Homo sapiens: one gene and its partners. The protein of the gene in region 3 interacts with the protein of the main gene of each other region in a biochemical or structural test. Each region holds a gene or a part of one and is shown on either strand. Other genes may lie near its edges. The genes, in order: RGS6, GNG2, GNB5 and RGS11.

Region 1 (7,295 bases), on a different chromosome or scaffold from region 3:
TCCTGCTGTAAGGAAAGAAATAGAATTACAAAATCAACTTTCGTGTTGAGTGATATGGATATAATATTTCAAAAAACAATTTTAACTTTTCCCCTGATTCCAAAAGTAATATTTAGCTATTGAAACAGTTCAGGAAAATACAAAGAAAAAAATAAAGGTTATCCATAATCTGCTAGGGAGAGGGAGCCACTGTTAACATATCTTTAACTGTATATTCTTCCAAATATTATTCTAGTCAATTATTTCTACCCAGTCCCCCTCCCCCACACATTTTTATAAATATAAAATATAGCTTGGAAATATAACTTGGAAATGTGTTAAAGGCTTGGGAATTTACTGCTTGTTTACAGAATGATTTTGATCAGATATTAGTTTTTACTGGTGGTCCTTATTTTCAAAAAGAGTAGGTTCTTTCTTTTTCTGTTCTTTGAAAACAAGTGTTTGCACTTTGGGCTGGTAATGCTTGGGGCTTCCTTTTGAATTTAGGGATTAAAGCATCAGAAAAGAAGTAGAAAGGTCATTGGCCATTGTGGGTGGGAGACCTGAGTTCTGGTTGCAGTTACTCCAACTTCTCCTGTGGCCTCTGGGCCTCTGTTTCCCTAAAGGGCAAAAGGTACTTTTAGATTTAACTAATTAAGCTAATGACGTATTTATTGCTTTGACATGAGAATGATCTTTGAAGAGGGCTTATTCAAACACAGAAACACCTGGGGGTCATCCTGGGAGTCTCTGATTGATTCTGTCTGAGATGGGGCCCGAGAAGGTACATATCTAACAAGTCCCTGGATGATGCTGACTGCTGGTTTGGTGACAGTGAAAACTAGAGGGTTAAGTGTACTAGGGTTCTCTTAGAGGGACAGAACTAATAGGATATATATATATATATATATATATATGTACATATATATCATATATACATATATGCTATATATATGCTATACATGATATATATACATATGATATATGTACATATACCATATATCTATAAAGGGGAGTTTATTAAGTATTAACTTACATGGTCCCAAGGTCCCACAATAGGCTGGCTGTAAGCTGAGGAGCAAGGAGAGCCAGTCCAAGTCTCAAAACTAAAGAAATTGGAGTCAGATGTTTGAGGGCAGGAAGCATCCAGCATGGGAGAAAGATGTAGGGTGGGAGGCTAGGCTCATTTCTCCTTTTCATGTTTTTCTGCCTCCTTTATATTCGCTGGAAGCTGATTAGGTTGTGCCCACCAGATTAAGGGTGGATCTGCCTTCCACAGCCCACTGACACAAATGTTTAATCTCTTTTGGGCAACACCCACACGGACACACCCAGGATCAATACTCTGTATCTCTCAATGCAATCAAGGTGACACTCAGTATTAACCATCAAAAGCCCACCCCTTGTCAACTTGAACCCATACATATCTCCTGAGATCATACATAATCTTCAAATAAAGACAATAATGAGGTCAAAATTGTGCATAACATAATACAACTATCCTTTGTACAACCAGAAATGCACCAATCCCCAATGCAAATACTATTACATAAAGTTAACAATACTTACATGCTGTTGTGAAGTCAATAAATCTTATGTCACATGATAAAGGAAAAGGAAATGAAGATATTTTCTTAGTATGAGTGTATATATACACAAACATGTTTTTAACAAAAGAAGGAGGAAATACTCTTGACAATTACAGTCTGTTTCTGCAGCTGGTCACATGGTCGTAGCTGGTATTGATGACTACCTTCTTCTACCCATTCAGTATTCCTTTTGCCTACAGCAAGCACCTCAGCAGGTTCTTTTCCCTGGTGGAGTGACCCAAACCTTTATTCCTGAAGGATCTGGACCATTTGTAGTCCCGCCTGGATTGGGCTGTTGTAGTTTCCTGTTGACCTTAATCACAGGGCATGGTAATACTGAGAGATGCCCTAATGGATTTCCTGTGTTCCATATGTAGTCTTCCTTACCTCTGCTGTGGAGTAGTAGACTGATTTCCTCTTGATAGTCCAGGTCAATCATGCCAGCCAACACAGTAATTTTCTTCTTAGCCTGTTGACTGAAAGATAGGAGTATCCCAAACTGTCCAGGTGGCAATCTTAACTTCCAGTTTAATGGAATCGTTGTGTTTCCTGGTGGCAGTGTTCCTCCCTCTGGAACTAAGATCTCTAGGCCAGCAGAAGGTAATGTCTTGGGAACAGGAAGCAAAAATTTTGCTAGTGGATCAGTAGGGGTGATGGTGAGTGGTGCCACTTCCACTTCCGCCCCTTGATTCCTGGACCTGTGAATCCTGGCTATAGGAGAAACAGTACCATATATTGGATGCTGATTCAGAGCATACACGGCCCTCTGGAGAACTCTGCCCCAGCCCTGCAAAGTATTGTCACCTAGTTGGCATTGTAATTGTGACTTCGAAAGGCCATTCCACCATTCTATCAATATAACTGCTTCAGGATGATGGGGAGCATGGTAAGACCAGTGAATTCCATGAGCATGAACCCACTGCCACACTTCTTTGGCCATAAAGTGAGTGCCTTGGTCAGAGACAATGCTGCATGGAATACCACGATGGTGGATAAGGCATTCCGTGAGTCCACAGATGGTAGTCTTGGCAGAAGCATTGTGTGCAGGATAGGCAAACCCATATCCGGAGTAAATGTCTATTCCAGTGAGGACAAACCTCTGCCCTTTCCATGATGGAAGAAGTCCAGTATAATCAACCTGCCACCAGGTAGCTGGCTGATCACCCTGAGGGATAGTGCCATATGGAGGGGTCAGTGTTGGTCTCTGCTGCTGGCAATTTGGGCACTCAGCAGTGATCATAGCCAGGTCAGCCTTGGTGAGTGGAAGTCCGTGTTGCTGAGCCCATGCATAACCTCCATCCCTGCCACCATGGCCACTTTGTTCATGGGCCCATTGGGTGGTGACGGGTGGCTGGGGAAAGAGGCTGAGTGGTGTCCACAGAACAGGTCATCCTATTCACCTGATTATTAAACTCCTCCTCTGCTGAGGTCACCCGTTGGTGAGCACTTACATGGGATACAGATAGCTTCACAGTTTTTGACCACTCAGAAAGGTCCATCCACATAACTTTTTCCCAAATTTCTTTGTCACCAATTTTTCAATCATGCTTCTTCCAAGTCCCTGACCATCCAGCCAAGCCATTGGCTACAGCCCATGAATTGATATATAATCGCATATTGGGCCATTTCTCCTTCCATGCAAAGTGCACAGCTAGGTGCACTGCTTGAAGTTCTGCCCACTGGGAAGATTTCCCTTCACCTCTGTCCTTCAGAGATGTCCTAGAAAAGGCCTGTAGTGCTGCAGCTGTCCACTTTTGGGTGGTGCCTGCATATCGTGCAGAACCATCTGTGAACAGGCCCTAGTCTTCTCCTCCTCTGTCAACTGATGATAGGGAACTCCCCATGAGGCCGTGGGTGCAGGCTAGGGGAGAGAAGGCAGGGTGGCAGGAGTGGAGACCATGGGCACTTGAGCCACTTCCTCATGTAACTTACTTGTGCCTTCAGGACTTGCCTGAGTCAGATCACGTATATACCACTTCCATTTGATGATGGGATGCTGCTGTGCACAACCCACTTTATGGCTAGATGGGTCAGAAAGCACCCAGTTCATGATAGAAAGTTCAGGTTGCATGGTGACTTGATGACCCAGTCAAACGTTCAGTTTCCACCAAAGCCCAGTAATAGGCCAAGAGCTGTCTCTCAAAAGGAGAGTAGTTACCTGCAGAAGATGACAGGGCCTTGCTGCAAAGTCCTAGAGTACTCCACTGTGATTCACCTATGGGCGCCTGCCAAAGGCTCCAAACAGCATCCCTATCTGCCACTGACAACTCAAGCACCATTGGATCTGCTGGATCATATGTCCCAAGTGGCAGAGCAGCTTGCATAGCAGCCTGGACCTGTTGCAGAACCTTCTCCTGTTCTGGACCCCACTCAAAACTGGCAGCCTTTCGGGTCACTCAATAAATGGGCCGGAGTAACACACCCAAATGAGGAATGTGTTGCCTCCAAAATCCAAATAGGCCCACTAAGTGTTGTGCCTCTTTCTTGGTTGTAGGAGGGGCCAAATGCAGCAACTTATCCTTCACCTTAGAAGGAATATCTCAACAGGCCCCACACCACTGGACCCCTAGAAATTTTATTGGGGTAGAAGGTCCCTGAATTTTAGTTGGATTTCTTATCCTCTGGCTTGCAAATGTCTCACCAGTAAGTCCAGTGTGTTTGCTACCTCTTGTTCTCTGGATCCAATCAGCATAACGTCAATGTAATGGACCAGAGTGATATCTTGTGGAAGCAAAAAGTGATCAAGGTCTCTCTGAATAAGATTATGACACAAAGCCAGAGAGTTGATATACCCCTGAGGTAGGACAGTAAAGGTATATTGCTAGCCTTGCCAGCTGAAGGCAAATTGCTTCTAGTGGGCCTTATGGACAGGAATGGAGAAAAAGGCATTTGCCAAGTCAATGGCTGCATACCAAGTACTAGGAGATGTGTTAATTTGCTCAAGCAATGAAACCACATCTGGTACAGCAGCTGCAATTGGCATCACCACTTGGTTAAACTTATGATAATCCACTATCATTCTCCAAGATGCATCTGTCTTCTGCACAGGCCAAATGGGAGAGTCAAATGGGAATGTGGTGGGAATCACCATCCCTGCATCTTTCAAGTCCCTGTTGGTGGCACTAATCTCCTCAGTCCCTCCAGGCACATGATACTGTTTTTGATTTGCTATTTTTCTAGGTAGAGGCATCTCTAATGGCTTCCATTTGGGCTTTCCCCCCATAATAGCCGTCACCCTACTAGTCAGCCAATGTGGGGGTTCTGCCAGCTGCTAAGTATGCCTATGCCAATTATGCATTCTGGCCCTGGGGAAATGACCACAGGATAAGTCCAGGGACCCACTGGACACACTATAAGCTGGACCTGAGCTAAAACTCCATTAATTATCTGACTTGCATAAGCCCCTAGCTTAAATGGAGGACCACAATGATGTTTTGGGTCCCCTGGAATCAATGTCAGCTCAGAGCCAGTGTCCAGTAGTCCCCGAAATGTCTGATCATTTTCCTTTCCCGAGTGCAGTTACCCTGGTAAAAGACCAGAGGTCTCCTTGGGGAAAGATGAGAGAAAGATCTACTGCATAAATTTTCAGTCATGTAGTGGAGTCCTTCCTTAAGGGGACCCAGCCTCCCCTTTGTCCAAAGGGTTCTGGGTCTGTAAACTGGCTCAAGTCTGGAAATTGAATGAGGAGCCGTGATTCTCTGTTTTTATAATTCAAATTAGTCTTTTGTCCATTCAACCTAGAAGTTTTCTGTTTGTGTAATTGAAGTAGGAATGCAGTAGGCTTCCTATCAATTTCACTTTTAGGAACACCATGATTAATTAGCCAATGCCAGAGCTCTACATGAGTCAGACTATTCTGATTGCCACTTTGCCTCTGCTGTCCATTATGGTAGTTATGCTCACCTTGCCTTTGATGGTTGAGTGCTGCCACTTGACCCCTGCCACCTGGTCCCTGCCACCTCTGGATCCAATTATTCCCATTTTGTAGTTGAGTGACTGTGGTTCCCACCATTAGATCTGACATACAGAGAATGGCAATTACAGGGCTCTTCAAAGATGCAGGTGCTGCCCTCCCAAGTCTATTTTGCAAGGCATTGGTCAAGGGTATATCTTCTGGACCCTCCCAGCTGGGATGAGTAGGTCTAAAGGGACTAATCCACTCCACCACCCCAATCTCCCTAAGCCTTTGGATTCCTTCCTGTACATTAAGCCAAGGGAGATCAGGCATTTCCAGCTCACTCACAGTGGGCCGCCTTTAAGAGCTTGTGTCTATTTTTCCACAATTTCGGCTCTTTCTCTAGGAGATAAGACTCTCACTTAGTGTAATCTTAGCAGATTTGAGGCTCAGTATCTGCTTCTGAAGCTGGGAGACAGAATCCCTGAGTTCATCATTTTCTTTCATCACTTTGTCCGTTGAACTTAAGAGCAGCCAACCTGCTTCACTGTGTTCCTTGGTTCTCCACATATGGTCAAATGTGCTATGTACAGAGTCGCTAAACTCCCTGCCTCTCATGAGCGGTGAATTAGGAGTGTCAAAGGCATTTATTTTGCATAACTCTCTAAACAGTTTCTGCCAAGGACTATCAGTGTTTTCTATACTATTAGAAGTAGAGTCCTTAGCATTTTTGGGTCTAATCATATTAAGCAGCCAACTCCAGAAACCCCAAAACCAACGAAAGAACTCCATTCTTAATATTCTGTTCATCTAGAACCACTCCTGGTACCAAAATCTGTATTAGGTTTCTCTTAGAGGGATATAACTAATAAGATATATATGTCTTAGGGAGTTTATTAAGTATTCACTTACACAATCACAAGGTCCCACAATAGGCTATCTGTAAGCTGAGGAGCAAGGACAGCCAGTCCAAGTCCCAAAACTGAAGAACTTGGAGTCAGATGTTTGAGGGCAGGAAGTATCTAGCATGGGAGAAAGATGTAGGCTGGGAGGCTAGGCTCCTCTCTCCTTTTCATGTTTTTCTGCCTGCTTTATATTCGCTGGAAGCTGATTAGATTGTGCCCACCAGATTAAGGGTGGATCTGCCTTCCCCAGCCCAATGACTCACATATTTAATCTCTTTTGGGCAACACCCACACAGACACACCCAGGATCAATACTCCGTATCCCTCAGTGCAATCAAGTTGACACTCAGTATTAACCATCACAGTAAGCTCCTTACAGGCCAAAATGCCTGTTTGACTTTTCACAGGCTTTCACAGTAAGCTCCTTACAGGCCAAAAAGCCTGTTTGACTTTTCTTTGCAGCCATCCATCCAGTGCCCCAAAATATACCTGCCAATAGGTGTTCAGTAAGCATTGGTTGAATCAATATTAGTTTTCTCTTATGGAGGAATATCTTTCTGGAGTAGTCAAGACAAAAGAATAATCATCCAGAATTTGGAAACATTAAGCCTGTAATAAGAGTTATAATCATTCATGGACCACACTACTTCAAACTGCAAAGAAAGCAAAAATGCTTATAAGTAGGCAATTAAATTGAACATTAAACCTAATGAGTTACATTAAATAATAACTAGGAATACCTGTTTGAGATGTTACAAACCACAAAGCCTACCAAATACTTCACCGTTACCTCTCTCAGGTCTGGAAGAGGCCATTTATTTTCTACCACATACACATATTTCAAAAAATGGAAGTTTCACTATTAATTACCCTAATTACCAAGGCAGCAGATAAAGCAAGCAATCTCCTTGCTCCCCTCTCCTCATC
Region 2 (7,295 bases), on a different chromosome or scaffold from region 3:
AATGTTATTTTTTTCTTCCTTGGTGGCATAAGGAAAAGTTAGCATATTCTTGGTCTTTACCACTGCCTCACAGGTTTAGGGAGACTTTTTTTATAGTGATAAAATATACATAACATAACATTTCCCATTTTAACTATTTTTTTAAGTATGCAGTTCTGTGGTAGCGAGTACATTGATGTGCTGTCATCACCACCGTCCATCCATAGAACTGTCTTTATCTTGCAAAACTGAAATTCTATACCCATTAATCAATACCTCCTCTTTCCCTCCTTCTCTCAGCTCCTGGAAACCCCCATTTTACTTCTGTCTCTATGAATGTGACCAAGTATCCCATATATGTGAAGTCATACAATATTTGTCCTTTTGTGACTGGCTTAATACACTTAGCATAATGTCTTTAAGATTCATCAATGTTGTAGCATGTGCTAGAATTTCCTTCCTGTTTAAGCTGAATAATATTCCATTGAATGTATAGACTATACTTTGTTTATTCTCTTTTGATGGACACTCGGGCCATGTTTTGGCTATTGTAAATAATACTGCTATGAACACGGGTGTACAAATATCTGTTAGAGTCCCTGCTTTTACTTCTTTTGGGAACCCAGAAGTGAAAATGATGGAACACAGTAATTATATATTTAATTTTTGAAGAATTGCCATACTGTTTTCCATAGCAGCTGCACTATTTTACATTCCCACCAGCAATGAACAAGGATTCCAACTTCTCCACATTCTCATCAATATTTATTTTGTTTTTTATTTATGTTTTTGATAATAGCCATTTTAAGAGGTATGAAGTGGTATCTCTTTATGGTTTTGATGAGCATTTTCCTAATCACTAGTGATGTTGAGCATCTTTTCTTGTGCTCATTGGCCATTTGTATATCTTCTTAGAAAAATGTCTATTCATATTCCTTGCTGATGTTTTTCCCCAGAAATACTGTGTTGAGAATATTTGCAAATTTTTAATCAAATTTTTGAAGAGACATTTGCAAATGGCAGGATCTTTTAACATAATGTGTCATTAGATAATAATCATAATCTTCGTATTTAACCTCCTTTATACAACAGTATTATCCCTGCGTAAATAAAATACTCCTCTCAAAAGTAACATTTGAAATCAAAAGGACAGAGTAAGAAAATGTGCATAGCTTCTGCTAGTTGGTGATGTCCAGAACCTGATAGTGAAATTCAAACCTTTATTGTAGACAGTCACACCAGTGATTCTGCTGGTCAAATCTCAGACCAGGCTACCACTACGGAGGCACTGGAGAGCTGTTTCTTCAGTGCTTTTCTGGTCCCCTCATTAGAGAAAAATGCTCAGTAGGTATCATGGCCAGAAAGGGAGGGGAGAAACTAAAGTACTAAATTGCTCTGAAATCCTTTATAAGGGGGAGCAGTAACTTGTGGGGAGGGGCTACAGTAGTTAAACAATACAACAAGTTTCTGAGACAACAAGTTTCTACTAATGAAGTGTGATCCTAACCAAAATTTCACTTTTAAAAATAATGAATCCTCTGTTTCCTTTTCCACGACAGATTTTACTCCTAATCCTTAAACTGGTGAGGCAGGGTATGGTGAGGCTGAGGAGAGCTGGGCAGAACAATTAGCAGGGACCCTATTGAATAGCAACAGTATCTGAGCTTTACGATGTGGGGTCAGACGTTGACCTTGAATGGTTTGAAGAGCTCCTGAATAATTAATGTTAACTTTCTGTAATGCACTTTGTCCATGTGCTGGGGGCCAGGGGTGGAGGGAAGTTTGCAAATAATGACCCCTAATTTTATTTAATGTGCACATCTATTCATTCTACAATTACTGGGAGAAGCCAGGTGCCTGTCTTTACTAGATCTGGGTGGGAGAGGAGAGTTGCAGAGCTGTGTCGAGATTTAGTCTCCACCCTCCCACCCTCACCTCCAAGATGATGACTATGTTAATTAGCCTGATTTGATCATCACAATGTATACATGTATCAAAACATCACATTGTACCCCATAAATATACACAATTTTTATTTTTCAATTAAAAATATAATAAAAAATTTATAAAGGACTTAGTCCCTGGCCTAGGACATGCTAGAATGGTAGAGCTAAAAATGATCTGGGGGGTGACCTAGCCTATATTGACCTCTTCATAAGGGATAATAAAATAGGCCTGGAATTTAGAGTTAAACAGTTCATTAATTCCTCACCTCCCAGTTACAACTCCATTTCACTTACCTCATATTAGGGCAAAGTCTTTATATGTTGTCACATTTAAAATTGTTTGTAAGACTAAAATATTTTGTTTAAAAAAAAAGAGTAGACGGTTTACATTTAGTACCCTATGTAAATATGGAGTTTCTGTGTACAAACTTGTTCAGGTGTGAAAGATGCCACTGTGGAATAGAGATTTAAATTTTCAGGTAAGAGTATTAGAGATATCTGTAAATATATGGTTCTTGAAAATTCTTATGTTAAAGACAACAAGTTGTATTTAGTGGGAGTCAGTGTTCAGACAATCTCTAGAGGACTTCATTAAACACTGAAAAAAAAAAAAGGGAGCTCAATTCTCAAACTTTAGTGATAACATGTTTCTTAGAAGTGGTACTACTGTATACAGAGGCTGGAGATAAGACAGGATCAGCCCCTTTATCTCTTGGCAAATATGTGTAAACAGTCAAGCTGTTAATGAAAAAGCTTTGAAAAACCAGTCTCTTGACCACTTCTTCCCTGTTCCCTGGCCTTCCCTTGCTCCCTGGCCAGCCCGGGTGTGGGGTCAGGCATTCCCCTGATCCTCTTCCCAGGAACCCAGCACTCAGAGGTAGAGGAGAGGGGCTGAAAACTGGGCTGACTGGTTCTACTCTAGATTCACTGCATCTCCGCAGGGCCATTGCTGTTCTTTCAAAATTCTTTCCTTCTTCCTTTTTTATTTCACTTTTCACTCTGTCCTGTGCATTTTCAATGGAAACCATTCAACCAAGTCCCTACTGCCTTTGTGCGTTAGAAGTGACCTCACTTTCTGTCTTTCTGAGAAGGCACATATTACAGACTTCCTCAACCTCATTCTTACCACCTTAGAATTTCCCCACGTCTTCCTTTATTTTAGATCATTTGAATTGCTGTCACAAATTACCAAAGATGAGGTAACCCAGAAACAACAGAAATCTTTTTTTTTTTTTACACTTCTATGGGCTGGAAAGTCCAAGATCAAGGTACTGGCAGATTTGATGTCTGGCAAAGGCCGTGGACAGCACTTTCTGTGTGTCCCCACATGACAGAAGGGGCCAGCTGGCTCTCTCCAGTCTCTCTTATAAGGGCACTAATCCCATTCATGGGACTCCATACTCATGACCCAATCACCTCCAAAGGTGGCCTCATGTCCTAATACCATTGCACTGGGGATCAGGTTCCAACATATGGGTATGTAGGGGGACAGAAAGATCTGCGTCATTCACATCATTCATTCTCCTCTTCCTCCTAAGTCAAATTAACATCATCTTTCCTTTAAGCCAAGAATAAACCCTCTACTTGGACTCTCTATCCCATTCCCTTTTACTTTCTAAGGGATTATGTTGTGACAATAATTCTGTCTTTCCTACATATTTAGTTTCTTCTCTTTCTTGGTCCTTTCCTCTTTCCCTGTAAACATGCTTAGTTTTTCCATACGCACACAAAGTAATTAAGAAGTAGATGAAACAAATCTCCTCCTACCTCTCTGCGGGCTCCAACTTCACTAACTTCAGTTCCTGCTCCCCAAATATGAGTGTTCTCAAGATACGAGTCTTTGGCCATTTAATTTCTCCCTCTCCCTAATCAAATTCTGTCCTGTGATTTTAGTCACTGTTGCTGTGTGGGTCAGTCCCAAATCTGATGAAGCATCCTAATCATTCACCTCCTCTCTCAGCTTGTACAGCAAGCTGCCTGCAAATTCACCAGAACATCCAACCCACAGAAAATGAAACTCACATGTCCAAAACTGTGCTCACCATCACCTTTCCCACTCCTCAAAACCAGCTCCTCACCTGATTTCATAATTGTTAATGACACCCCATTTATCATTACCTCAGTTATGACAATTCAACTTCACTGTCTTCCTCACCAAGCACCTCTAGTTGCAGGAAGTTGCATGGCTCCTTGCAATTGTGATTGGGAAAATATCTTGATACTGACTCTTTTCCATGTTTATAGCCGGTGTCTTAGTTGAGGCCCTCCTAACCTCCAGCTGGGCTGACTTGTTTTTTGAGTTCTTTTCTCTCCGCCTAGGATAAGTTAGTTCCTGCTTCCCCTTCCACACTTTGTCCCCACAGTCTTACTTCTCTGAATAACCAAATTCCATCTGTCCTGTAAAGCTCAGTTCAAATGCTGCCTCTTTCATGAAGCCTCCCTTGGTTTCTTCCCTTTTTTCCCCAATAAAAAAACAATGCTCCTCTGAAATCTTTTGTTCTTTCATCACAGCATCTAGCTCATTCTAGTGTGTATAACAGCAATCTGCATAATTTTTTTTTTTGACCACACTCCAAGCTCTTTGAGGACAGCGGTCACATCTGGTTTCATCTTTGTCTTCCTTATACCACACAATGCAGTTTGTTTATCATTCATTTATTTAATGAACATTCTTGAGTGACTCATTTTTTGATGCAGAGTGGGCTAGACATAGTACTTGTCCTCTAAGAGCTCACAAACTCATGGGGAAAACAGACAAATACAGAAATATAATTACAATAGAATTAATCGATGTGTTCAAAGTCCTAATGTCTGCAATGTGCCATGTGCTCGTCAAGATGCCAGGGAGACTAGGATGAACAAAACTGGTCGGTTGTTTTCTTGAAACTTACATTCGAGTATTGAGAGAGACTCAGTAAACACATAAACCAGTGGTTTTTAGGTCTAACTGCACATTAGAAATCACTGAGAGGGTAGTTTGAAAAAAATATCATGTCCCAACCTCACCTCAGAGTAATTAAATCAGAATCAACCAGGATTGGAACCATTGACAGAAATGACTTACAATAAAAGAAAATGTCAAGTAGTAGTGAGTGCTTTGATGGATTGAAGTAGAAACAGGGTGAATGGTGGGACTGTGCCTATGCTGGCAGGGGTAATTGGGAGATTACTTTGTTGAGTAATCCCTGAAGGCCTCTCTGAAGAGGTGACATTTGAGTTGAGACCAAAATGATGCTGAGGATTCAGCCATGTAAAGATATTGGGGCGAAGGGGGCTTGTGGAGAAGGTTTTGAGCAGAAGGTGCAGGTGCCTTTCTGAAATAAGAATGAGGTGAGATTTCAGAGGAAATGTGTCCTTCTTCACATACATGTTCTGTAATCTACAAACTATGTCTTTTTCCCTACAGAAAGCAGCTTTTCGATAAACTTTGTAGACTCCAAATGCAGAACACTTGGCTGCTGTGTTGATTACTTGATCTGGGTTGGATTTTATTTAGTTCAAATTGATTTACACAGTCAGGAAGACTACTCTGTTTGATTACATTTTTTTCTCTACACTGCAATCAGCACTACACTACTTGTCTGAATTAAATACCATTCTTATTGTTTAAAATAACCTTAGGTACTTGATATTATCTTTATTTGAATAAAGAGGAGAAAGCAATGACTTCTGCCCTTATTCCTGTTTTGGGGAACCAGGGAAAGCCTCCTAGAGGAGTCATTCAGACCACACAGAGTAAAGAAAGCACTAACTAATTTGAATAAGTGAAGACTAACATATGTCAAGAATTAAGTTGAGAATGAACATTTGTTAGGCATTCAGTTTGTGCTGGATACTTTAGCTAGTTTTAAAAATAACCCTACGAAATAAGGACAATATTTTTCTATCAGGATATTTCTGGCTGCTGATAAAGGAATGTCCTACTAAAATGGCGTAAGCAATAGGAAATTGATCGCAAGACCTCTGATAGGAGGGTAGCTTCAGAGTTACTTATGTGGTAGCTGGATAATGTCCTTAGCAACCTGGATTCTTCCCTTCCTCCCACTGTGACACCTTCAGCAGGTTGATTTCCCCTCACTGTGTGGACATGGCGTCTACAATTTTGGAATTATAGGCATATTTCAATACGTAGAGGCATATCAAGGTGCAGCAGATTTCTTATGTGGCTCTTTCTGGTTTGTTGAAACAGGGCCTCGGTCTGTCACCCAGGCTGGGGTGCAGTGGCATGATCATGACTCATTGCAGCCTCAGCCTGCAGGTGGGAGGCTGATCCTTTCACCTCAGCCTCCTGAGTAGCTGGGACCACAAGTGTGTGCCACCATGCCCAGCTAATTTTTGTATTTGAGTAAAGATGGGGTTTCACCGTGTTACCCAGACTGGTCTTGAACTCCTGAGCACAATAGATCCACCCACCTCGGCCTCCCAAAGTGCTGGGATTACAGGCCTGAGCTACCTTGCCCTGCCGCGGCTCTTTTTAAAGTCACAGAAAATCTGTGTCCAGTGGAATTTCCACTCACAACTCACATGCTATATGTATGAGTAAGTAGGCAGACAGAACCACTGTGATTGGCTAATTTAAGAGTTTCCTCCCGAGGCCATGGAGCAGCCCAGGCTCGCTGAAGAACAAAGTCATCAGACCCCAGCAAAAGGGTCTGGTTCTATTAGCAAGGAAGAGGGGGTTAGTGGGTAGGCAGTCAATAGAGTTGGCCACTATTATTATTCCCATTTTATAAGTGAAGATATCCAGACTAAAAAGGTTAAATAACTGAGCAATATCATACAACATTGAATTGAACAAAGTTTCCATGCATTTCCCTTTGAGAAAAACACGAACAAAAGCCTTGTTTTTGGCTATATAACAAACCTGCACGTGTACCCCTGAACCTAAAAGAAAATATTAAGAAAAAAAAAACAACTTGTTTTTGTTGTTAGCAATGATCTAGGTAGGCCAGAGGAAGAATCCTGGCGAAAAACACAGACTGGAGAAAGCTAGGCAAAGTAAAGAATAACCTTCTAAACAAAATATTCCAGAAGGAAATACATCAGGTCCTATAAAGCAATAAGAATGGCATTTAATTTAGACAACCAGCCCTGCATTTCTGCATTGTAAAATATATATATAATTAAATTGCATTTTCCTGACTGGTCATTTAAATCAATTTGGTCTATATAAAAATCTACCCTGGGCCAAGTAATGAGCTAGAGACGCCAAGCATTCTGTGTATAGTATCTGTCAGACTTAAATGAAAACCTTGTTTTCTCTAGAGAGGTAGGTATTTTGTTGATTACAGTACCTGTAAAGAAGAATGGATCATCTCTGGAATTTCTGATTATGAGTTATTTAGAAAATAGTTTCCACTTTCCAGCTCC
Region 3 (7,295 bases):
GCTCCGCTGTGTTCTAGCTGGTGATCCTAGACAGCGTTTGAATTTCTGCGTGCTTCATTTTTCTCACCTGCACATGAGGATAGTAAAGTAGTAAATCTGTCCTGCATAAGGTTTTCTGAGGCTTAAATTAGATGATTCATGTACATAGTGTAGTCCCTGGTAAATATCAGTAAGCGTTAACTCTTATTATTTGTTTGTTTGTTTGTTTGTTTTTTGAGACAGGGTCTCACTCTAGTACCCAGGCTGGAGTACAGTGGCACAGTCTGGGCTCACTGAAGCCTCCACCACCCAGGCTCAAGTGATTCTCCTGCCTCAGCCTCCCAAGTAGCTGGTAGGCCTGTAGTGGGTCTGCAAGCACACGCCACCATGCCTGGCTAATTTTTGTATTTTTTGTAGTGATGGGGTCTTGGTGTGTTGCCCTGGCTGATCTTGAACTCCAGAGCTCAAGCAATCCACTTGCCTTTGCCTCCCAAAGTGCTGGGATTATAGGCGTGAGCCACTGCACCCAGCCAATTTTATTATTATTAACACAAAGCTTCATGGATGATGCTGATACATGGCCTAGTTTGGGTACTACTGAACTCATGAACCTCCAGCTTTCTTCAATCCCTGGGATCTAGGTTGATAAAAGAGAAACTCAAGCGGCTGGTATGAGACTATGGTATTAAACTTACAAATTCTCTGCATTCCAGAACAAATGAGTGACAATGAGTTAGGGGTTCTGTTTAATGCATTTATATGAATAAATGTTTGGTCTTTAAACTTTATTTTTACTTATATTATAATGAAGATCAGAAACACAAAATTGAAAAGTATTAGAAATCTACTTTTAACTTTTAAAAACTATTCATTTCTTTGATCAAACAGTATGGTATGAAAATTTCCTAAATTAAAGAGCAAGACTGGGGTAGTTGCTTAAAGAAAATTGTTTGGACCTGGTGTCTCAAAATAAACTGTAAGTTACTGCAAGTGTTATTAGGAAAGCAGTGAGTTGGAACAGCCACTAGTGGGTGTGGGCCAGGAGAGATTGAGGGAATTTGAGCATCCAACAAAATATGAGTACCCAAATTTCAGCCTCGGTTCAGGTTTTGTGTGTCCATAAGCTACTTTGCTAGCTTAAGTCATCTTGTTGGATGTATGCAGGCCTCCTGAGGGAAGTCAAGGCTGGAGGGGGTCCTGTGGACAGCCAGTGGGTGCAACACCAGGGCGGGAGCAGATTCCCCTCCTTGTAATTTGTTCCTTCCCTGCAAAAAAAGAAAAAAAAATGAGTTTTTTTTTTTTTTTTTTTGAGACCAAGTCTCACTCTGTTGCCCAGGCTGGAGTACAGTGGCGTGATCTCAGCTCACTGCAACCTCCGCCTCCCAGGTTCAAGCGATTCTAGTGCCTCAGCCTTCCAAGTAGCTGGGACAACAGGCGTGAGCCACTACAACTGGCTAATTTTTGTATTTTTAGTAGAGTTGGAGTTTTACCATGTTGGCCAGGCTGGTCTTGAACTCCTGACCTTGGGTGATCCGCCCACCTCAGCCTCCCAAAGTGCTGGGAAAAAAATGAGATTCTTTATGTTCAAGGCCTAACATATAAGAGAGAGGGGAAGAAAAAGGGAAAGGGGGCAAAGGGTGAGGAGGAGAGATCCCATCAGCAGCTGGAAATTGAAGGTGTGGTGTGGTCAGTGGTTGCATTGCATGCTAGCGGTGCATAAGGCCTGATTCCTCTTTTCTTTCCTCAGCCATCAGTAATCATCCGCAAAGGGCTCTCTTGTGGACACTTATGCTGCAAGAGCCACTTCCTCCACGGTCTTATCACCTCACCCAGGCCCTGTGGAGCAGCCAGAAGGCAGGGAGAGCTTCTCCCTTGCAGGTCCCCTCCATTGCTGTCAGTACCCAGCTGGCTCCAGGGCTCTGTGATGCCGCCAGCTGGGCCTATGAGGGCCCCGAACCCTGAGTCCTCACTGCCTTTCTCCCAATCCCAGGAAGGTATGCTCAGCCAGAGCCCAGGCCTCATACACACTGGCAGTGACAAAAAGTAAAATTCCAGCCCTGTCCCCATGTCTTTCCCTGGGCACCCCTGTGTGCCTTTACTCTATGGCTGACCTTTGTACTTGTAAGCTATCCAGAGGCTCTTTGGGCCTCTGCCAGAGTTTCCTAAAACATACGTTTGCTTTTCTCATTCTCCTGCCCAGAAGCTTCCAGAGTGCTCTCTTGGCTTCAGACTGAGTCCCCACCTGTGAACGGGCTCACCTTTCATTTAGTGCAGACATAGGCCCCCCTGGAGTTTGTCTCTCCCCTTCCCTTCTTTCACCTGGCCAGCTCTCACTCTTCCTTGAAGACCAACTCAGATATCACCACACTGGGTTTGGGACCCTCCTGTGTGCACACCTGGATCCCAGCACTTCTCATGCTGTTGTCATTGATCCTTGTCTACTGGTGATGTCAACTCCCCAAGCGAACATCAGAAATACTTGCAACCAAGCAAAGCTAAGGTTATCTGACCTGCCACAGTAAGGGAGAACCTCCACTTGGCAGAATCTTAGTAGGTTCTGAAAATGGAGGAATTAGGGAAGGGTACTTAGAGGATTTCAGGGTCCAGGCTTGGTGATTTTAAGGTGGGTCTTGCAAGGCCGTTTTAGCTTTGGATTGGTGAGCCCAGCAAGCGAACAGTCTTTGAGTCTGGATGAGCAAGCTGTTAATCTTGGTAAGTTGTCTAATCGATTCACAGTCTTTTCTCCCAGGAGCAGGTATTTTCTGCAGCAAGCAGTTAAGTTATTTTTACTTGGTCTCAATATGGTTTAACATAGTAACAGGAAAGTTGGCCTGGTCCCAGAATTGTTTAACACAGGGATGGGGAATTATGTTGGTTTCATTCTTACTGGCAATCCTATTAAACTGAGTTCTGGGAGAACAGAAACTGAGACACAATCTTTCTGCAAACCCTCATGCATTAGCAGAGTGCCTGGCAGACACTGTCAGCACACAGCAGATGTTTCTTGAACCTGTGTATGCGTGAATATCCTCTGGCACCCGTCAGTGGTCCTGGGAAGCCTCTGGGCAGCACTGTGCTCGGGAAAAGCAGCAACAGAGAATGTCCAACAAGATGCTGCCTAGACCCCTGCTGCTCCCAGTGTGCCCCGTGACCAGCCTCAGCATTCCCTGGGAGCCTGTGAGAAGTGTAGACGCTCAGGCCCCACCCCAGACTCTATTAGCAAGCAGCCCAGTGATGTGTATGCATCAGTATCCAAGAAGCACTTTAAGTTTTTGGCCTGCACAGCAGTGGGAGGCATCGAAGGTTTTAAACACTCAGTAGAGACTCACGGAACACTTCCTACGAGCCAGGCATGTGTAGAGCCCTGTAGGTACCACCATGAGGCCGCCAGGATTTCAGCTCTGCTGGGAGGCAGGCATATAAACACAACTCAAGGACTGTGAGGGTAGGAAATGCACTCTTTCCTTCTTTGTATAGAAGAGAGATTTCTGTGCATGAACCCAGATACAGCAGGTAGGGTGTGTGTGTGTGTGTGTGTGTGTGTGTGTGTGTGTGTGTGTGTGTGTGTGTGTGTGTGTTTTCTGCTTTTCCCTGTGTGTGTGTGTGTGTGTGTGTGTGTGTGTGTGTTCTGCTTTTCCCTGCAAAACGTTAAGCCTCTGATTGACTGCCCCCGGCATAAGCAATAACCACAACCATATAAACACAACTCAAGGACTGTGAGGGTGTAGGAAATGCACTCTTTCCTTCTTTGTATAGGAGAGAGATTTCTGTGCATGAACCCAGATACAGCAGGTAGGGTGTGTGTGTGTGTGTGTGTGTGTGTGTGTGTGTGTGTGTGTTCTGCTTTTCCCTGCGGAACGTTAAGCCTCTGATTGACTGCCCCCGGCATAAGCAATAACCACAACCACCCACTTCCTGTCCTTTTCTGCGGGCAGATCCTGACAGCGAGCGGCGATGGCACATGTGCCCTGTGGGACGTGGAGAGCGGGCAGCTGCTGCAGAGCTTCCACGGACATGGGGCTGACGTCCTCTGCTTGGACCTGGCCCCCTCAGAAACTGGAAACACCTTCGTGTCTGGGGTAAAGACCCAGTGGAAATTCCCTAGGGCTCCTGTGTCCACTAAGGAGGCTTATGGTGGCAGTTCTTGTCCATTCATGGGATTAGCCTAGGCACTTCCCTAGAAGGGGCTGCAGGAATTGTTCTCAACTCCCCACTAAACCCCCAGCTCCTGCAGTGACCGCACTGGCTCCAGGCCCCTCTCGGGGGCTTGGTGGGCAGCTACAGGGCTAAGCTGTGAGGGCCTCCTTCTGTTCTGCCACTGATGTTAGCAGTCTATAGAGTAATCTGGAATGTTCTCCTGTATGAGTGCTGCAACTCAAGGTGCATATCTGCCACATTTTAAAATGTCATTCCTCAAGTAAATAGCAGAGAGTTAGCATCTGAGAGCATCAGAGATGCGCACAAGGGCATGGCAGGTCAGATGGCTACTGAGCTGAGGCAACGCTGTGATGCCACCAGGACTTTGAGGCCTGTGGGGCACTCTCCTACCCTACCCCTGCCAGCCACCATCCTCCCTCCCATCACAGGGTGCAAGAAACAGAGGCTTTGAAAGCTCAGAATTGGCAGACAGGGCCACAGAGACTCAGAGAAGCACTAGACTAGGAGTCAGGGTGCCTGGGTCAGGGCTTTGCTACCTGACTGTAAGTCGCATCCGCTATAAGTTGGCCATAGTGCATAGTGGTATTTGCACTTCCCCTCCCCAGGATGGTACAAGCAGTAGATGGAAGAGTTTGCAGTGTGTATGCAAATGGGAGGGGCAAGTCTTTCTGGGGCCAGCCTGAGAATAAGGACAGAGAGCTGGGCCAGCTGACCTTACCATGGGTCCTGTCTCACCTCCGTCAGGAGGCAGTGGTGAGACAGGACAGTGACGCACACACTGTCAGGTGACTTCTGCAGCTGGGACACATAAGGGACCTTTGCTCCAGGCTGCCCACATATCGATCCTGGGAGCCAGGCCAGGGCTGTATGAGCTGTAGTTAGCAGGGACCCTGATTTTCTTCCTGGGTATTTGGCCATGTGTAGATGTTTCAACCCTGTGCCTTGGTATCACTGTATTTATCTCTCCTCAACTCTACTGTGTTTTTAAAAAATTACTGCTATTACTGTAGATCATATTGTCTCTTTCAGAGCACTAAACTGCATCCAATTGAGTGTCCTCTAAAGATGTGAAGGCCTTTCTGGTTTCTTTGCCCACATTTTCAGTAAAGACACTCGGGATGCTGAACTCCCACAGCGGGCCTTCCTCAGATGTGTGATGGTGCTTCATTACACACCTCCCTCTGCTCCAAGTTGAAACCAACAACTTAGACACCAGTTTTAAGCTGTTACTTTTTAGCTGTTTGATCATATAAGCTATTTGACTATTGAGAGTCCACATTCTACTACTTAAGCTTGATAACATGACCACTCTGCAGGAACTTATCAAACTACTCCCAGAGCCTTGATAGGATAATGGAAAAACCCTCATGTCTGTGACCTTCTGGGTCATGTTAGCAACCTGAAGAGAGCATTGACTTTATAGGTGTTGAGGCAGACGCCCAGGGAGGTGACTTGCCTAAGCCACCCTGCGCGTCGATGGCAGCACCCTTATGGGCCCCTGGTTTGCAGATTCCCAGCCCAGCATGCTGCTGAGGGTGCAGATGGCCCGGGGCACCTGGCTCTCCAGCTTTGCTGAGGGCTGCCCCATACACCAAAACAAAGCTGGGACTCTCGGCTGCTCCATTTGGGCACTGCCAACCCATTTATTAATGTCACAACTAGAGAGGTCCCACCACACACCACTGCCTGCCTGCCTTGCCCTCTGGGCTTAGGGAGGCAAGTATAAAGAGAAGAGAGAAAAGAAGGAAAAATGAAAGGAAGGGAGATGCCCGGGGGAGGGTAAGGAGGGTTTGCCTCCATTCAGAAATGTGCAAAAGAAGAAAACAAGCTAAAAGAGGAAGCCGAGTGCCTTCCCTCCTGCCTCCCATCCCAAGACCTAGTTCTAGGCGTCTAAGGGCTTTCTGACTAAGGAAAGTGCCCTCAGGTAAAGCTAGTCTCAGAAAAGTGTGTTGTCAACCATTTGCTAATGGGAAATAAATGGTCTGTGTTATATAACTGGGACTCGTGCCTTGTCTATAGACATTCCTTAAAGTGGCCATAACTCTGGCTAATTTTCATTTGTAGGGATGTGACAAGAAAGCCATGGTGTGGGACATGCGCTCCGGCCAGTGCGTGCAGGCCTTTGAAACACATGAATCTGACATCAACAGTGTCCGGTCAGTGAGTAGAATGTTCATGCCACCTCTCTGTTCTGCCGGCATTGCCTGGCTTGGGTAATCCTTAGCCCAGGAACCGCCTCCAGACTCAGTTTACTTGGCTGAGAGAGGCCTCCCCGGGAAGAAAGGCTGATTGTGGTGGAACTGAACAGTGCTCCAGAACTCATGGAGAATTTTAATTTAATTACATTAGGAGCAATTAATATCCTCCCTAAGTTGAATCAGCATTTTTCATCCATTCATTCAATAAATATTTATTAAGTATTTATATGCTAGATATTATTCTAGGAACTGGGAATATATCAGTGAACAAGATGGACAAGGTCTCTATTCTCTTACAGGAGACAAACTAGACCAAACACAAATATACAATTTCAGATACTGATAACTACTATGATAAAAGTAAAACAGGGAGATGGGATGGGTCATTTCTTAGAGGTCAAAGACAGCCTCACTGAGAAGGTGATCTTTACATTGAGGCCAGGATCATGAAAGAGCCAGGCAAGCAAAGAGCTGGGGGAAGAGCACAGAGATGAGAGGTTAAGGGACCTAACAAAAGGCCAGGTGGTCACTGGAGAGTTTTGAGTTGGGAGGGGTAGGGGTGGCTAACCTGATCATGTTTTGCCTTTAAAAGATCGCTCTGTTGGGAAGCTGAGGCGGGCAGATTGCTTGAGCCCAGGAGTTCGAGACAAGGCTAGGCAACATGGCTCAACCCTGTCTCTACCAAAAAAAAAAAAAAAATTAGCAGGGCATGGTGATGTGTGGAGGAGGCTGAAGTGGGAGGATCGATTGAACCCAGGAGATTGAGGCTACAGTGAGCCGAGATGGTGCCATTGCACTCCAGCCTAGGCAACAGAGCAAGACCGTGTCTCAAAAAAAAAAAAAAAAACCCAAACAAACAAAAAAGATCACTGGCTGTATGGAGAATACATTGTAGGGAACAAGAATGGAAATATGATGACCAGTTAGAGGTGGTTGTGTGAGTTCAAGAAAGAAATGATG
Region 4 (7,185 bases), on a different chromosome or scaffold from region 3:
GGCGGGACCACAGTGGGCGCGGGTCGCACGCACACCCAGGAGGCAACAAGGGCCCCTCAAAGGCTTAGCGACCTGGCTGCGCTGTGTGAGTTCCCAAGAGGGGGTGTCCCTGCAGGGCTCTTGGAAACCCAGTTACCGAGCCCCCTGTCCTCAGGGAGAGGACACTGACAAGGGGGCGGAGTACAGAGACCGGAGCACAGAGGGGGCTTCTGATATTGACACCTAAACTGAGACCTGTGGGTGGGTGGGGGGGATGGGACCCGGCAGGGGACAGGGGTGAGCAGGCCCTGGCTGGGACAGCTGGACCAAAGGCCTGCGTCTGGATAAGGGAGAAGGGGTCCGAACACCAGCCTGAGTCCCTTTCTTAGACACCCCTGGCCGGTTCCAGGGACACCAGAAATTAGACCCGCCCTTGCCAAAGAGCTCCTCAATTGAGAGAAGACCACCTTGGGTGCTAGGGGGCATTGGGGTTTGGGTGGGGACTGTCTCCCTTGCCCCCCAACTGCCCACAACCTTTCCAGGGCAGGATCCTATGAACTTGTGCCCAGGCCCCCCTAGAGCGCCACCTCTGCTGACCCTTCGCTGCAGGGAGCGGGGGCTGTTAGGACACTTGTCCCCAGGCCCACAGCTCCAGCTCCTGCAGCTGTTACCAGATAGAAGGTCTTGGAGGTGAGTTGTCCAGGTTCTTGGTGGGTTGAACAAAGAATTGAACAAAACGCACAAAGTAACAAAAGAACAACGAAACACAAGGAAACAAAACTGAGTCAGAAGAACGGAGTAAGGAAAGCACAGATTTAACGGAAGGCAATTCACAGAGTGGGAGTGGGCTGGAGCAAGTAGCTCCAGAGCCTCTGTAATTAGGATTTTTATTAAGCAAAGAAACCTGACCACAGCCCTTGTGCCCTTTAGAGGCCTCCAATTGGCTACACCCTATGAAGGATTGGCCCGAGACCAATCAGAGGTGAAGTGGAAATTTCTGTCTTGTTATCACAGCAGCCAGGATGTGGCTTGTGAGCTGCCCAATCCTGCCTAGAACTGGCTGCACCTGCTGTTCCGTTTCTTATGCCCAACCCTTGGCTACCCTCATTCCCTATTCTGCCTCACAGCTACCATGGGTGCCCACCCCTGCAGACAGGGCAGCCAGACCTGGGCCACCTCACCCCACCTGGGTGTGGGGCATGGGAGGGCTCACTGGGATCCAAGCGAGATGGTACCCTGGAGTAAGAGACCCCACAAGCCCCCTGCCCCAGCTCATGCTGAACGTGGCCTCTCCGGCAATGGAAATGGACTCAGACCACTATGTTAGGGGCTCCCAGCCCAAGGCCAACCGCCCACCCTGCCCAGCCCCTAGCACCCTCTGAGTGGGTAAGGATGGGGAGAGGTACTCTGCCTCCAAGAAAGCAGAAATAGACCAGATGCGGTGGTACACATCTGTAGTCCCAGCTACTCAGGACGCTGGGGTGGGAGAATCACTTGAGCTCAGGAGTTTGAGGCTGCAATGAGTTTATGATTGCACCACTGCACTCCAGCCTGGGTGACAGAATGAGACTGCCATCTCTCAAAAAATAAATACATAGCCAGGTGCCATGGCTCATGCCTGTAATCCCAACATTTGGGAGGCTGAGGCAGGAGGATCACTTGAGGCCAGGAGTTCAAGATCAGCCAGCCTAGGCAACACAGCAAGAAACTGAGGCCCTTACAGACAGGGATAAGCGAGGGGCTACGTGTATATTTATCTACAAAAATAAAAATGAAATTAAAAAAAAAATTAGTGGCCAGGTGCGGTGGCTCATGCCTGTAATCCCAGCACTTTGGGAGGCCAAGGCAGGTGGATCACTTGAGGTCAGGAAGTTTGATACCAGCCTGGCCAACACGGTGAAACCCCATCTCTACTAAAAATGCAAAAAAAAAAACAAAAAAAAAAATTAGCCGGGCATGGTGGCGCATGCCTCTGATCCCACCTACTTGGGAGCTGAGGCAAGAGAATCGCTTGAACCCAGGAGGCGGAGGTTGCAGTGACCCGAGATTGCACCATTGCACTCCAGCCTAGGCAACAAGAGTGAAACTCCATCTCAAAATAAATAAATAAATAATTTAAAAAATAAAGAAAGCAAGCAGAAATAGATGCATTTGCACCTTTTAAAAATGGTGCTGAGGCTGGGCTCGGTGGCTCAGGCCTGTAATCCCAGCACTTCGGGAGGCCGAGGTGGGCAGATCGCCTAAGGTCAGGAGTTCAAGACCAGCCTGGCCAACAAGGTGAAATGCTGTCTCTACTAAAAATACAAAAATTAGCCAAGCGTGGTGGCGGGGGCCTGTAATCTCAGCTACTCAGGAGGCTGAGGCAGGAGAATTGCTTGAATCTGGGAGGAGGAGGTTGCAGTGAGACGAGATTGCGCCATTGCACTCCAGCCTGACAGAGCAAGACTCAGTCTCAAAAAAAAAAAAAAAAAAAAGATGCTGGCTGGGCATGCCTTTAATCCCAGCACGCTGGGAAGCTGAGGCAGGAGGATGGACTGAGCCCAGGAGTTTGTGACCACCTTGGGCAACATAGTGAGACCTCGACTTAGTTTTTAAAAAATGATCCGACCGGGTGTGGTGGCTCACACCTGTCATCCCAGAACTTTGGGAGGCCAAGGCAGGTGGATCACCTGAAGTCAGGAGTTTGAGACCAGCCTGGCCAACATGGTGAAACCCCATCTCTACTAAACATACCAAAATCGGCCAGGCACAGTGGCTCACACCTATAAGCCTAGCACTTTGGGAGGCCAAGGCAGGCACATCACCTGAGGTCAGGAGTTCGAAACCAGCCTGGCCAACGTGGTGAATCCCTATCTCTACTAAAAATACAAAAATTAGCTGGGTGTGGTGGCGCGTGCCTGTAATCCCAGCTACCTAGGAGGCTGAGACAGGAGAATCGCTGGAACCCAGGAGGCGGAGGCTGCAGTGAGCCAAGACCGCATCACTGCACTCCAGCTTGGGTGACACAGTGAGACTCCGTCTCAAAAACAAAAACAAAAATAAAAATTAGCCAGGCGTGGTGGTGGGAGCCTGTAATCCCAGCTACTCAGGAGGCTGAGGCATGAGAATTGCTTGAATTCAGGAGGCGGAGGTTGCAGTGAGCCGAGACTGCCCGGTGGGGCCTGAAGATCCTGGGCCTGGCTCGGGGTGCACCTGGGGGACAGGCATAGCCATTGGAGGAGGGAGAGAGCTGGGAGTGGAGTGGGGCCTGAAGCCTGGCGGCCGCCGGTGACACTAAGTGGGTGTGTGTTGAGGGCCTCCCTGCAGTAAAGCTCCTCTCCAACAGTGTCAGGGTGCCCTGGGCAGGGTTTCTGCTCATTCCCCAGCGGGCCACCCAGGCCTGCGTGGAGCTGAGGGAAGTGAGCCATGAGCCATCAGCCACTTTCCCGGAAGGACCCCGGATAAGGGACCCACAGCAGGAGATGGGGACAGCTGGGTCACACTCTGCAGCAGCCACGTGCTCCACTGACAGCCGGCATCCGGCCCATGTAGAAAGCTGACCCAATCTCTCATGCACCCTGCCCCTAACCAGCCACCGTCACAGCAATGTATGCAGTCTTGGCCACAAGCATCGCAGGACACAAGGCCTCGGGCAGTCATACCGCTGGCCCTGGCCCCGGCCCCACAGCCAGGCCTCTAGTCCCTGTATGTCCTCAGGGCCCCACACATAGGACCGGGGTTACAGTGGGCCCTAAACCACGTTTCCCACCCCAGTTCACTCTCCCTACGGGTCTCCTCTACTCACGGAACCCCTCTCCCTCTCTGAACCCCCATCCCCTCCGCTGCCCTCCCTGAGACCCTCCCCATAGTAACCCCCCCTCGCTGATGAGCCCCTCTGCCTCTCCCAGAGACCACCCCCTGCTCCAGCTGAGCTCCATCCCCTCACATCCCCCCTCGGCCCCCGGCCCACACCCTCCCCCGTCCCACTTCGCCTTCACCCACGAGGGCCTCAGCGTCCCGGGACCTGGGTCGGGGGGGTGACTCGGGTCGCTCGTGGGGGGCCGGCTCGTTTGCCTCTGGGCCGTGGCCGTGTCTCTTAAAACCCGAACCGGGGCCTGGGCGACTCTGGCCTCGCGGCCCGAGGGTTAACCCGGGCGCGGCGCGGCGCGGGGCGGGGCCGGGCGGGACGTCGGTCATCCCCGCCGGCCTCGCCCCGCAGCCATGGCCGCCGGCCCCGCGCCGCCCCCCGGCCGCCCCCGGGCGCAGATGCCGCATCTGAGGAAGGTGCGAGGCGGGTGGGTGTCCCGCCGTCCCCCGATTTCCCGGCGCCCGAGGCCGGGAGGGGCCGGAGAGCATGGGGACACGGGGGCGCGCGGGGCGGGGCGGGCCTGGGGCGGAGGTCTGCGAGGCCGGGAGGGGCGGCGAGGCCTGGGGCCCTTGGGGGTCTCCGGGGTCTCCCCGGCCCTCCCCGGCCCTCCCCGGCCCGCCCCGCGTCCCCGCCGCCAGCTGCGGCCTGGAATCCGCCGCCGCCGCGCGTTAATCTCCGCGCTCCCGGATCCGGGGCATCCCGGCCGGTGCCAGGGAATCAGGGTTGCGGGGCGGCCAGACACCCCCTGACGACTCCCTCCGCCCAGATGGAGCGGGTGGTCGTGAGCATGCAGGACCCCGACCAGGGCGTGAAGATGCGGAGCCAGCGCCTGCTGGTCACCGTCATTCCCCACGCGGTGACAGGTGAGGCGCGCCGGGGCGGGGGTGCGTGCGCGCCTCGGCCTCCCTCCACCTCTGTCTCTCCCGTGCAGGCAGCGACGTCGTGCAGTGGTTGGCCCAGAAGTTCTGCGTCTCGGAGGAGGGTGAGCGCCCTGCCTCCCACTGGGCCCTGGGGTCACTGGGCTGGTGGCCTAGGCCTGGGTTTTCCTGGAGTCTGGCAGTTCTCAGAGCCCTGCTGAGCGCGCTGTGCAAGGGTGGGGAGCACATAGGGGAGAGGAGGCCCGGCTCGTCCCGCCCTCGCCCGCTTCCGCGGCCCCGCGCTCACCGTCCCACCCCTCCCCAGAGGCCCTGCACCTGGGCGCCGTCCTGGTGCAGCATGGCTACATCTACCCGCTGCGCGACCCCCGTAGCCTCATGCTCCGGCCAGACGAGACGCCCTACAGGTTCCAGGTCAGGCTCGGGGGTGCAGGTGGGAGCCGGTGGGACCCCCACCCCCACCCACCCAGCTTACCAACTCGGGGAGACAGGAGGGGCGCCGAGCTTGCTGGGATTGGAGTGGGACTCCGCCATGTCGCCGTGGGCTGGTGGTCCATCGCCCCCTCCCCAAAAGTCCTGGACCGCAAGTACGGATGTGGTGAGAAGGACCCGGCTGAGGGATGGAGCCTCAGTTTTCCTGGGGACCACAGCAGGGCCCCACAAGGGGTCGTATGTGCAGAGGATTCTGCCATCTTCCTGGGGGTCCCTAGGCCCAGGTCCTGAGGGAGGGGCTGTGAAGGCCTGAGGACAGCATTCCTGCCCTCCCTAACCACATCAGGGTCCCGGGCCGACCTGCCGTCGGTTGTACCCCTCCCCAGGCACAGACTGTGACTACATCCAAGACTTGTGCAGGCCCCCAGCCCCACCCCGCCTTGAATGGGGGCTTAGGGTGACCAGTGAGGGAGGCAGTGTCTGAACAGGGCCCTAAGGAGCGAGTTGACCTCAGTTCTAGTTGGAGAGACTGGCCAGTGGTCAGTGGAGTCTCTCGGTGGTGGGCAGGCAGGGAGATCCTCAGACACCTCCTGCCCAGCCCAGGCTTCTTCCCAGGGAGGTCTGAGGGTGGGGTGACACTGGGGAGGCACAGACGCAGGCGTCCTGGACACCTTCTCCCTGCACCACGCCAGACCCCGTACTTCTGGACAAGTACCCTGAGGCCGGCTGCAGAGCTGGACTATGGTGAGCAAGGGGACGGCTGGCCCCAGACAAGTTCCCAGGACTGGGGGCCTCAGGGTGATGCCGTGAGGCAGGGCAGAGCTGGCCCCTCTGCAGGCTGTCCCTGTTCTTCCAGCCATCTACCTGGCCAAGAAGAACATCCGAAAACGGGGGACCCTGGTGGATTATGAGAAGGTGGGACCCCCCACCCTTCCCGCCCCGGCTGGGTACAGCTGGAGGAACCCAAGCCTCACTCACGGCCCCCCGGGGCTTCACGGTTTACCCCAGAACATACAGCCCAGGCCCCAAAACCCAAGACAGTCCCCAACCCCCCAACTGCCCACACAGTCTCACTGGGGGCAGGGGCCGGGGTGACCCACTGGAAACCTCGCTGCCCCCAGGACTGCTATGACCGGCTACACAAGAAGATCAACCACGCATGGGACCTGGTGCTGATGCAGGCGAGGGAGCAGCTGAGGTGAGGCCCCGCCCTGCCCCGCCCCGCCTGCAGGCGCCCAACCCAGGCTACCCGGGAAGCCCAGCCCAGGCCAGGCTCCGGTGGCCCTGGGACCGTGGAGGGCACCCCTGGGTGTGGCTGCCTGCCCAGGTCCAGGCCTGAGGGTGGGGGCGGAGGGGCTGCTGTGTGCAGGGCGTGCCCTCAACTCGGCCTCCTCCTCCCAGGGCAGCCAAGCAGCGCAGCAAGGGGGACAGGCTGGTCATTGCGTGCCAGGAGCAGACCTACTGGCTGGTGAACAGGCCCCCGGTGAGCCCACCTGCGGTGAGGGTGGGGGTCGCTGGCCAGCGCAGGGGTCAGCGTGCTTCCCTGACAGGCGCTCTCAGGACCACCATTTTGAGCCTGTGGAAGGACCTGCCTTGGAGCTCCTGGTGGGGGCAGGACGTTTTCACTTCGTGACTTAGTTGCGTTTCTGCCAATCAGAACCCAGGTCTCCATCCCTAGACCACAGGACAAGCCAGCTTCTCTCTGGGCCCAAGGGAGAGTCACAGGGATGCCAGATTGCGGGGACTGCAGACTCTGCCTCGGGAGCAGGCAGAGTGGGGGCGGCCTTGGCTGCAGTGGGGGGACCGAGTTCACAGGCCGGGAGCAGCTGGGGCTGTGGGGAGGCCCGGTGGACAGGCCATTTGGAGGTGGTGAGCAGAGAAGAGACAGCTGACGGCTAGGTCGGGACTCTTCCCGAGTTCCTTTGAGTGTCAGTTTCCACATGGGGGTCTGGGAGGGGGAACTTAGCCTTAAAGGGGGTCAGCCACCGGAACTGCATCCCCACCTCATCTCGTCTCCCCTCCGCAGCCCGGGGCCCCCGATGTGCTGGAGCA

Evidence for each region.
Region 1: the proteins of GNB5 (region 3) and RGS6 form a complex in vitro, tested with the Homo sapiens proteins (one study listed by BioGRID).
Region 2: the proteins of GNB5 (region 3) and GNG2 form a complex in vitro, tested with the Homo sapiens proteins (one study listed by BioGRID).
Region 4: the proteins of GNB5 (region 3) and RGS11 form a complex in vitro, tested with the Homo sapiens proteins (one study listed by BioGRID).

The regions. Positions count from the first base shown.
Region 1 is NC_000014.9:71,935,146-71,942,440, forward strand, and holds part of RGS6 (regulator of G-protein signaling 6), read left to right. Parts: intron 1-7,295. UniProt on the Homo sapiens protein: Regulates G protein-coupled receptor signaling cascades. Inhibits signal transduction by increasing the GTPase activity of G protein alpha subunits, thereby driving them into their inactive GDP-bound form. The RGS6/GNB5 dimer enhances GNAO1 GTPase activity.
Region 2 is NC_000014.9:51,863,424-51,870,718, forward strand, and holds part of GNG2 (guanine nucleotide-binding protein G(I)/G(S)/G(O) subunit gamma-2 precursor), read left to right. Parts: intron 1-7,295. UniProt on the Homo sapiens protein: Guanine nucleotide-binding proteins (G proteins) are involved as a modulator or transducer in various transmembrane signaling systems.
Region 3 is NC_000015.10:52,132,376-52,139,670, reverse strand, and holds part of GNB5 (guanine nucleotide-binding protein subunit beta-5), read left to right. Parts: intron 1-3,914; coding exon 3,915-4,058; intron 4,059-6,201; coding exon 6,202-6,293; intron 6,294-7,295. UniProt on the Homo sapiens protein: Enhances GTPase-activating protein (GAP) activity of regulator of G protein signaling (RGS) proteins, such as RGS7 and RGS9, hence involved in the termination of the signaling initiated by the G protein coupled receptors (GPCRs) by accelerating the GTP hydrolysis on the G-alpha subunits, thereby promoting their inactivation.
Region 4 is NC_000016.10:272,906-280,090, reverse strand, and holds the start of RGS11 (regulator of G-protein signaling 11), read left to right. Parts: upstream 1-4,146; 5' UTR 4,147-4,179; coding exon 4,180-4,242; exon of another isoform or gene 4,243-4,253; intron 4,254-4,592; coding exon 4,593-4,689; intron 4,690-4,751; exon of another isoform or gene 4,752-4,757; coding exon 4,758-4,808; intron 4,809-5,008; coding exon 5,009-5,115; coding exon of another isoform or gene 5,116-5,134; intron 5,135-5,192; coding exon of another isoform or gene 5,193-5,288; intron 5,289-5,825; coding exon 5,826-5,877; intron 5,878-5,989; coding exon 5,990-6,048; intron 6,049-6,254; coding exon 6,255-6,331; intron 6,332-6,534; coding exon 6,535-6,616; intron 6,617-7,159; coding exon 7,160-7,185. UniProt on the Homo sapiens protein: Inhibits signal transduction by increasing the GTPase activity of G protein alpha subunits thereby driving them into their inactive GDP-bound form.